Linked DNA regions of Homo sapiens. The protein of the gene in region 2 interacts with the protein of the main gene of each other region in a pairwise test. Each region holds a gene or a part of one and is shown on either strand. Other genes may lie near its edges.

The links. The genes of interacting proteins can lie anywhere in the genome.
Region 1: the proteins of NANOS1 (region 2) and PUM2 interact in a two-hybrid assay, tested with the Homo sapiens proteins (one study listed by BioGRID).

The regions. Positions count from the first base shown.
Region 1 is NC_000002.12:20,349,440-20,353,184, reverse strand, and holds the start of PUM2 (pumilio homolog 2), read left to right. Parts: upstream 1-2,340; 5' UTR 2,341-2,588; intron 2,589-3,745. UniProt on the Homo sapiens protein: Sequence-specific RNA-binding protein that acts as a post-transcriptional repressor by binding the 3'-UTR of mRNA targets.
Region 2 is NC_000010.11:119,027,716-119,031,460, forward strand, and holds the start of NANOS1 (nanos homolog 1), read left to right. Parts: upstream 1-1,998; 5' UTR 1,999-2,086; coding exon 2,087-2,965; 3' UTR 2,966-3,745. UniProt on the Homo sapiens protein: May act as a translational repressor which regulates translation of specific mRNAs by forming a complex with PUM2 that associates with the 3'-UTR of mRNA targets. Capable of interfering with the proadhesive and anti-invasive functions of E-cadherin.

The DNA.
Region 1 (3,745 bases), on a different chromosome or scaffold from region 2:
ACCTCATAGGTAATTTGTGGAGCTCAGTTCAAAATGAAAATGAGGGGCCCTTTTGTCAAAAACCACTAAGACTTTCTAGATGGTGACATCAGAGCATTAAACCAATCGTAGAATCTTTTTAGGCACCCCCCAGGCCTTGTTCAACTGCACAGGTCACGTGCCTGTGCTGAAGCTGGCCTTGTTCATGGGGATATCTGGAACATTAAATGAGACAATGTATGGAAAGTGCTTTGGTGCTTGCATGTTGTTAGTACCAAACAAATAACTATAGCTTACACGTGGCTTTTAGTAGGACTCTTGGTTGTAACAGAAATTCACTTTATCTAGCTTAAGCAAAGAAGCAGAATTTACCATAAGGATCCAGGAATGCGGCTCAGACTCCAAGGGTAGAGGCAGCCAGCCAGGCACAGAAACATGTGAAAGAGAGACATTGTCAGCACTCTCCTTTTCTCTCTCAACTCCACTCTTTCTCTACAGGTTCCCTGTCTTACAGGATGGAACCAGTCTGCCCAAGGGATCCCAGGTCCAAGAGACTTTCGAGGTTGGGGTCTCTTAGTCCCAATTCCATATTCTAAGGGAGGGCCTGTGATGGATTTATCTAGTTTCACCCACACTAAGCAACTGTATATAAAGACTCTTCTGCTATTATCAGCTCAACGGAGGGGAAAGGAGAAGGAAGGCAAAATGTGTACACCCCAGCATCTCCCATTCTTACTTGATCGTGAGACATTTCTTAAAGGAACATCTATTAACACTGAACACAGCACACTAGGGAAATGCTGTCGTGGGTGATGGGGAGCAATGAGATGGTTGAAGCAGAGGCCTGAGCGCCAGGAATTGGATTTGCATTTTAGATAGCAGTGAGCAGAACTGATTGGAGGGAGTGAGACTGGAGACAGGAAAGCTGATTAAGAGCCAGCTACAGAAATCCAGACCTGGGAAGCAAGGCTAGCATTAGTGAGGAGGCAGAGGAAGACTGTCTCCAGAATTACTTGGGAAGTAAAAATCTGCGAGGCTTGGTAAGTTATTTATATTTGGAGTCGGGGTAAGAGGAAGAGACAAGGATGGTTCTCAGAGGTGTAATTTGGGGAATGAATAGGTGGTGACACTGCCAATTACAGAGACAGTACAAGAGTGGGGGGTAGGGGATGGGTGTGACTTCAGTTTTTAACATGCTTGGTGACAAGAAAATTCAAGTGAAAATATCTAGAAGCCTGAAATATGAGCCTAAGGTAGGGGCTTGGGATGGATTTCAATGTCAGACATTTTTCAGTAATAGTTAAAAACCGAAGAGCCCATGTGTATTCAACAGGCACTTGCGGGCACAGTGTGAAACAAAACACAAGGTCCTTGCCCTCGTGGAGCTCACAGTCGCCTAGGGAAGACATATATTAAGCAAACTATACGGGAGGCCCTGAATATTTACGAAGTGCAGCATGTCAGGAGAGCCAGGAGCTGTGCAAACAAACCATCAAGAACAAATCGGACACGGTGCCTGTTACAGCTGTGTGACCTGGAGCCGGTTAGGTTAGAATCCTGGAATCACCACTGCTTTGCATGGGGGTCCAGGACAGCAAGGCAGATTTGGAGTTTCCAACTAGCCTGTAAACGGGGAAGGAGAGAGCGCTTAGTACGCGAGAAAAAGAAACAGCCAACGAGTGAGAATCACTGGCCCAGCTGGAGAACGACCTGAGTTTCCTTTGTGTGCACCGGGACCAAGCACTGGGGGCCGACAATTTGCTGAGAGCTGGCTCCACCTGCCTGGGGTGCAACCACGAGAAGAGTGACAGCCCTCTCGCAGGGTACAATCTTCCACCCCCAGATGCATCTCCCTCGTCTGGTTGTGGGGAGGTACAGAGTGAAAGTTAAAGGCCTGAATTAACGTCCGGCTCTTGTGGGCGCCAGCACTCTGGAAGCGAAATGCCAGGAGTACCCCACGGTGGGCGGCGCGGGCGCAGACACCCGCACACCCAGTTGGGGGAAAACAGTGAGCAACCGGGTAGGAAGCCGAGGGTAAGAAGATTCAGAAGGCGAGGCCCCACGCGGGAAGACAGTCGAACACAGCGTTTGGCAACAGTACGCCTGCGCTCTCCGAGCCCGCCGCGGCGGAGCCCAGGAGGGAAGCGCGAGCCCGCAAGGTGAGGGCGGGGGAGGGCACGCCGGAGAGGCGGCCAAACACGTGAGAGCGCGGAGAACGTGCGCACGCGCAGGGCGCCCCCGGCCCGCGCGGCGGCAGCGCGGGAGCAGGGACGCAAGGCATTAAAAGGAGCCGCGCCTTGGTGAGCGCTCCCCCTCCCCTTTCTCCCGGGGTGCACTGCGCGCGCCCGGTGGGCGGGGGGGAGGGGAGGGCAGGCGGCGGTGGCAGCCATGTTGTTGTGAGTCTCTGTGTCTCACCCTCGGTACTTCGGTGGTTCGGAGGAGGAGGGGGAGGAGAAGGAGGAGGTGGGGTGGGGGGGGAGGGTGGTAGGTGGAGAAAGAAGACATTGCCGCCACCGAAGGCGGAGGAGGGGGAGGACCGCCAAGAGCGACGCCGCCGTGTGCCCAACGGTCGGTGTCCCCGGCTGAGGCAGCGCGGCCGCAGCAGCCCTGTAAGTCAGTCCGCGTTCGCTCTTTCTCCGGTCCTTTGGCGCCGTCGAGGATGGCTCCCCAGGCTTTGTGCGGCGGCCTCGGCGGGAGCCGATCGCCAGCGGGAGGGCGGATAGGGCCTGCTGAGTGCCCGGGCCGGTGCGGCCTGGGGCCCGCTCGCACAATGCAGGGGGAGGGGTGCCGGAAGGGGGTGTGCGCGTGCGGGGGAGGGGGCGCCGCGCCGGCCGCTTTCCCGCTTCCTTCCCTCTGCGGGGCCGCCGCCTCGGGGGCGTGGGGCGCCGACCCGGTTCTCCCTCCGATTCGGCGCGCTGGAGGTTAGAGACCGAGCTGTCGGCCCTAGGGTTCGGAAAGAGGGGAGAGGCCGGGTGGCCCCAGAGAAGCATGCGGATTGCAAGTGGGTGAAGAGGAAGGAGTGGGTTTATGAAAACAAGTGTGGGCATTTTCAAAGGCCCGAGTGTGTCCGGGAAAAGCTTGCCGTGGACAGATGTGGGTATGAAGCAGTGACTTGGATTCGCCTTGTTTAGGTTATAGGAACGGATTTCGATATTCAGAAAAATATGTAAATTAAAACCAAAGACAAGATTAGCGGCTTCTACTATTTGAGCAGTAGTTTTGTATCTGAATTGGGTCAGGTTTTGGGGAAAATGTTTAAAGTTTCATGCCCAAACACGTGTAAAAGTTAGTGTTGTTTCTGAAAACACAGCCAGAGAAAACCTACTTAACTTAGCTTTTTATTCTAACATACGTAAACTTTTGAAGAGAGGAATGTATTGCCAGCATATTAGGTGCAATAAGACATCATGTTAGGACTTAGTACTTTGAGATTTTTACTTGTTGAGAAAACGGGGCAGATGTTTTGGTGAAGGAAAACATGAGAAAAATGCTTGTAAACGGTGAAGAGAAATGTAATACCTGTAAAGGTACTGTATGTCAAGAAAACAATTTTAATAAAGGGAGTTACCGAAGGATTTTAAAAGCTTGTTTAATGGTTAGATTTCGTGTTTAACAGGTGACTCTTCACCATGTGACCTGGAGTATTGGAAGATGACTTAAGGAATCCTGTAAATAAAAAAAAAAAAACAAAAATGAGTATTTTCAACTTGTTTCTCTTCCTAGCCTCCTTTTAAACAATGATTTACTTCATTTGCTCAATCATTAT
Region 2 (3,745 bases):
TTCTGATTCCCTCATTCATTCATTCTAATATTAACCAATGCCAGCACTAGGTTCTGGGCATCCCCTGCTGAGCCATTCTAAACCTGCTGGGCACAGCCAAGACCTGTGAGTGTGGCCTCAGGCCTAGTGAGGGCTCATTGTTTCCACAGCCACTGCATGGTCCAGAGTGAGGAAGGAAAGCCCCATCTGCCCCATGAAGCCCACCCTGCCAGGGCCCACCTGCCAGGGGAGGCATTTTCCTGATCCCAGTTCTAGGTTTCATCCTAGAAGAGCCCTCAGTATCTAAAGCCTTTCCTACTTTCAATTTTTAAAAAAGTTGGGAAGTGTAAGACCACCTGCCATCTTCCTAATCAAAACTCATCTTCTGGCTCTTATTCTCCATGGCTTTTACACAACATGTTTTATTCATTTCAAAGTATTTAATTATAATGTTGAGGCCAGGTGTGGTGGCTCATGTCTGTAATCCCAGCACTTTGGGAGGCCAAGGCAGGAAGATCGCTTGAGGCCAGGTGTTCAAGACCAGCCTAGGCAACATAGTGAGACCCTGTCTCAAGAAAAAAAAAAAAGAAAAAAGAAAAATCAAGAAGAAAAAAGAAAGAGTGAGAAAGAAAGAAAGAGGCCAGACGCGGTGGCTCACGCCTGTAACACCAACACTTTGGGAGGCCAAGGCAGGCGGATCGCGAGGTCTGGAGTTCAAGACAAGCCTGGCCAACATAGTGAAACCCCGTCTCTACTAAAATACAAAAAATTAGCCCGGCATGGTGGCGGGCATCTGTAATCCCAGCTGCTTGGAAGGCTGAGGCAGGAGAATTGCTTGAACCCGGGATGCGGAAAGAAAAGAAAAAAAAAGAAAGAAAAGGAAGGAGGGAAAGAAGGAAGGAAGGAAGGAAGGAAAGAAGGAAGGAAAGAAGGAAGGAAGGAAGGAAGGAAGGAAGGAAGGAAGGAAGGAAGGAAGGAAGGAAGGAAGACAAAATATAACATTGAATACACGTTGTTTTTCAAACTGCACATACAACCCACATTTTGACTCAGGCCTCTGGGGCGAGGGGGTACACACACACACACACATCCCAGTCACTGTCCTAGGCTCTCCAGCCATGAGATTTTCCGGCCCAGCCCCAACCCCGACCTAAGTAACCGGCTATCGGCCACCCATTGGCTGAAGTCCCTGAGCACCTGTTGGGAGGAAGGCTGCTGCGTGCAGCCGGAAAGTCCTGCGTCCCTCCGCTCTTACCGCGGCAGGAACCACAGCCTCCCCGAACCTCAGGGTTTGTATGGATTTCGCCCAGGGGAAAGCGCTCCAACGCGCGGTGCAAACGGAAGCCACTGGCTGGTTGGGCGGCTGTGATGGGAGAGCTGCATCCTTCCAACGCGTCCAGCTTTTCATGCTGATGTTGGTGAGAAGGGGGTGGATAGCGGGGATTCTCAGGATTAGGGCCTAGGGCCATTAAAGGCTGGGAGGTGGGGGCGTAAACCTGTGGCCACCCTGACCCCTGTCCTCGGGGGGCCTCACCACCAGGCCGAGGAGACCCAGGCCTGGTCACCTGCTCCAAGCCCAGGCCCGGCGCTCGAATGCGGGCCCCAGCGGCCCTCCCTTCCCGGCCCTTCTCTCCCCTACTTTCTCCTCACCTCCCAGCTGCGCGGAGAACACGCCCCCTCCCCGTGTTCCCACCAATCAGCGTCCGGAGCGGCGCCCGAGGCGCCGGGGGGCTCTGGTCTGCAGCCAATGAGCGCCACGGCTCGAGGCGGCGCCTCGCCCGCCCCCTCCCGGAATGAAGGCCGCCCGACAGCTGGCGAGGCTGGCGCAGCGCGCGGGGCGCGGGAGCCGCGCGGGCTGGAGCGGAGCGCGCACACAGCCAGCCCGCCTCCGCTCCGCCTCCGTCCGGGGCGCGGGCGAGGTGGCCGGGGCGGGGGAACGCAGGGGGCAGGGCCGCGGCGGCGAGGCCGGGGGGCGGGGAGGAGTGGGCCCGATAAAAGGCGGCGCGGCGGCCCCACCCCGCGGCAGGCCGGCGGGCAGGCTCGGCGTGTCCCTTCCGTCCGGCCCGCGCCGGCGGCGGGGAGGCGGCGCGCGGCCCGCAGCCCGCCCATGGAGGCTTTCCCCTGGGCGCCCCGCTCGCCCCGCCGCGGCCGCGCCCCCCCGCCCATGGCGCTCGTGCCCAGCGCCCGCTACGTGAGCGCCCCGGGCCCGGCGCACCCGCAGCCCTTCAGCTCCTGGAACGACTACCTGGGGCTCGCCACGCTCATCACCAAAGCGGTGGACGGCGAGCCGCGCTTCGGCTGCGCCCGCGGTGGGAACGGCGGCGGCGGCTCCCCGCCCTCCTCCTCCTCGTCGTCCTGCTGCTCCCCCCACACGGGGGCCGGGCCTGGGGCGCTGGGGCCGGCGCTGGGGCCGCCCGACTACGACGAGGACGACGACGACGACAGCGACGAGCCGGGGTCCCGGGGCCGCTACCTGGGGAGCGCGCTGGAATTGCGCGCGCTGGAGCTGTGCGCGGGCCCCGCCGAGGCCGGGCTGCTGGAGGAGCGCTTCGCCGAGCTGAGCCCGTTCGCGGGTCGTGCCGCCGCCGTGCTGCTGGGCTGCGCGCCCGCCGCCGCCGCCGCCGCCACCACCACCAGCGAGGCGACGCCGCGCGAGGAGCGGGCCCCGGCGTGGGCGGCCGAGCCCCGGCTGCACGCGGCCTCCGGGGCGGCGGCCGCCCGGCTGCTGAAGCCCGAGCTGCAGGTGTGCGTGTTCTGCCGGAACAACAAGGAGGCGATGGCGCTCTACACCACCCATATCCTCAAGGGCCCCGACGGGCGAGTGCTGTGTCCCGTGCTGCGCCGCTACACGTGTCCCCTGTGCGGCGCCAGCGGCGACAACGCGCACACCATCAAGTACTGCCCGCTCTCCAAAGTGCCGCCGCCGCCCGCCCGCCCGCCGCCCCGCAGCGCCAGGGACGGCCCGCCTGGCAAGAAGCTGCGCTGAAGGCCCGGGCTCCCGGCCGCCCAGGGTCGCCGCCGCCCCTCGCACCGCTAGGTCTGCGCACCATCTCGCCCCCGCCGTGGGGAGGCGTGCGGCTCAGCGGTCGGCTCGACATGGGACGTCGTCCTGGTGGTTTTTGAAAAGCAGCCGACCGTGTGGAGTACTTCCGTGCTGAACGATTGGGACTAGACGCTGAAATCCCCATTTGTCTTCAGTTTCTAGTTTGCACATCCAGAACGGCGAAGGCTGGGTGTGTATTCCACTAACTGAAATATGGCAACTTAGAGGCGCTGTTTATTTACTGTATACGTCGACCTATTTTAGATGCGCATCAGTATGAAATTGTCTCAATCTTGGATGTTTCATTTTATGAATGGAGGCACTTTACTAGGTCTAGAATATTTTTTTAAAAGCCTCTGAACTGAGCTTAAAACTGGCGATTTTATGAAATGTCGGCAAAATGACTATTTTATTGTTTGAAGCGAGTTAATATTCTCAGTTGTCTTTAAAAATCAGTTACTCTAATTCCAGGTGAAGCAAGCCGCTGGTAGCATCACCCTTATGAGAAGTGAAGGTTTTGTAAACTTTCCAGTATTAATTTGGGCGGGTATTCCCCGCTTGTGGCTTGTTTCTGTCCTAGCTGGAGGTGTAAAATGCACAATGTGTAGCAGGTAGAATACAGCTCCTTATCGTTCTATGTACCAGGTATTTTATTACTGAACTAGCAACTAGCCTTTTCCACCTTTAAAAGTTGTGCCAAGTCATAATCATATTGTGTATAAC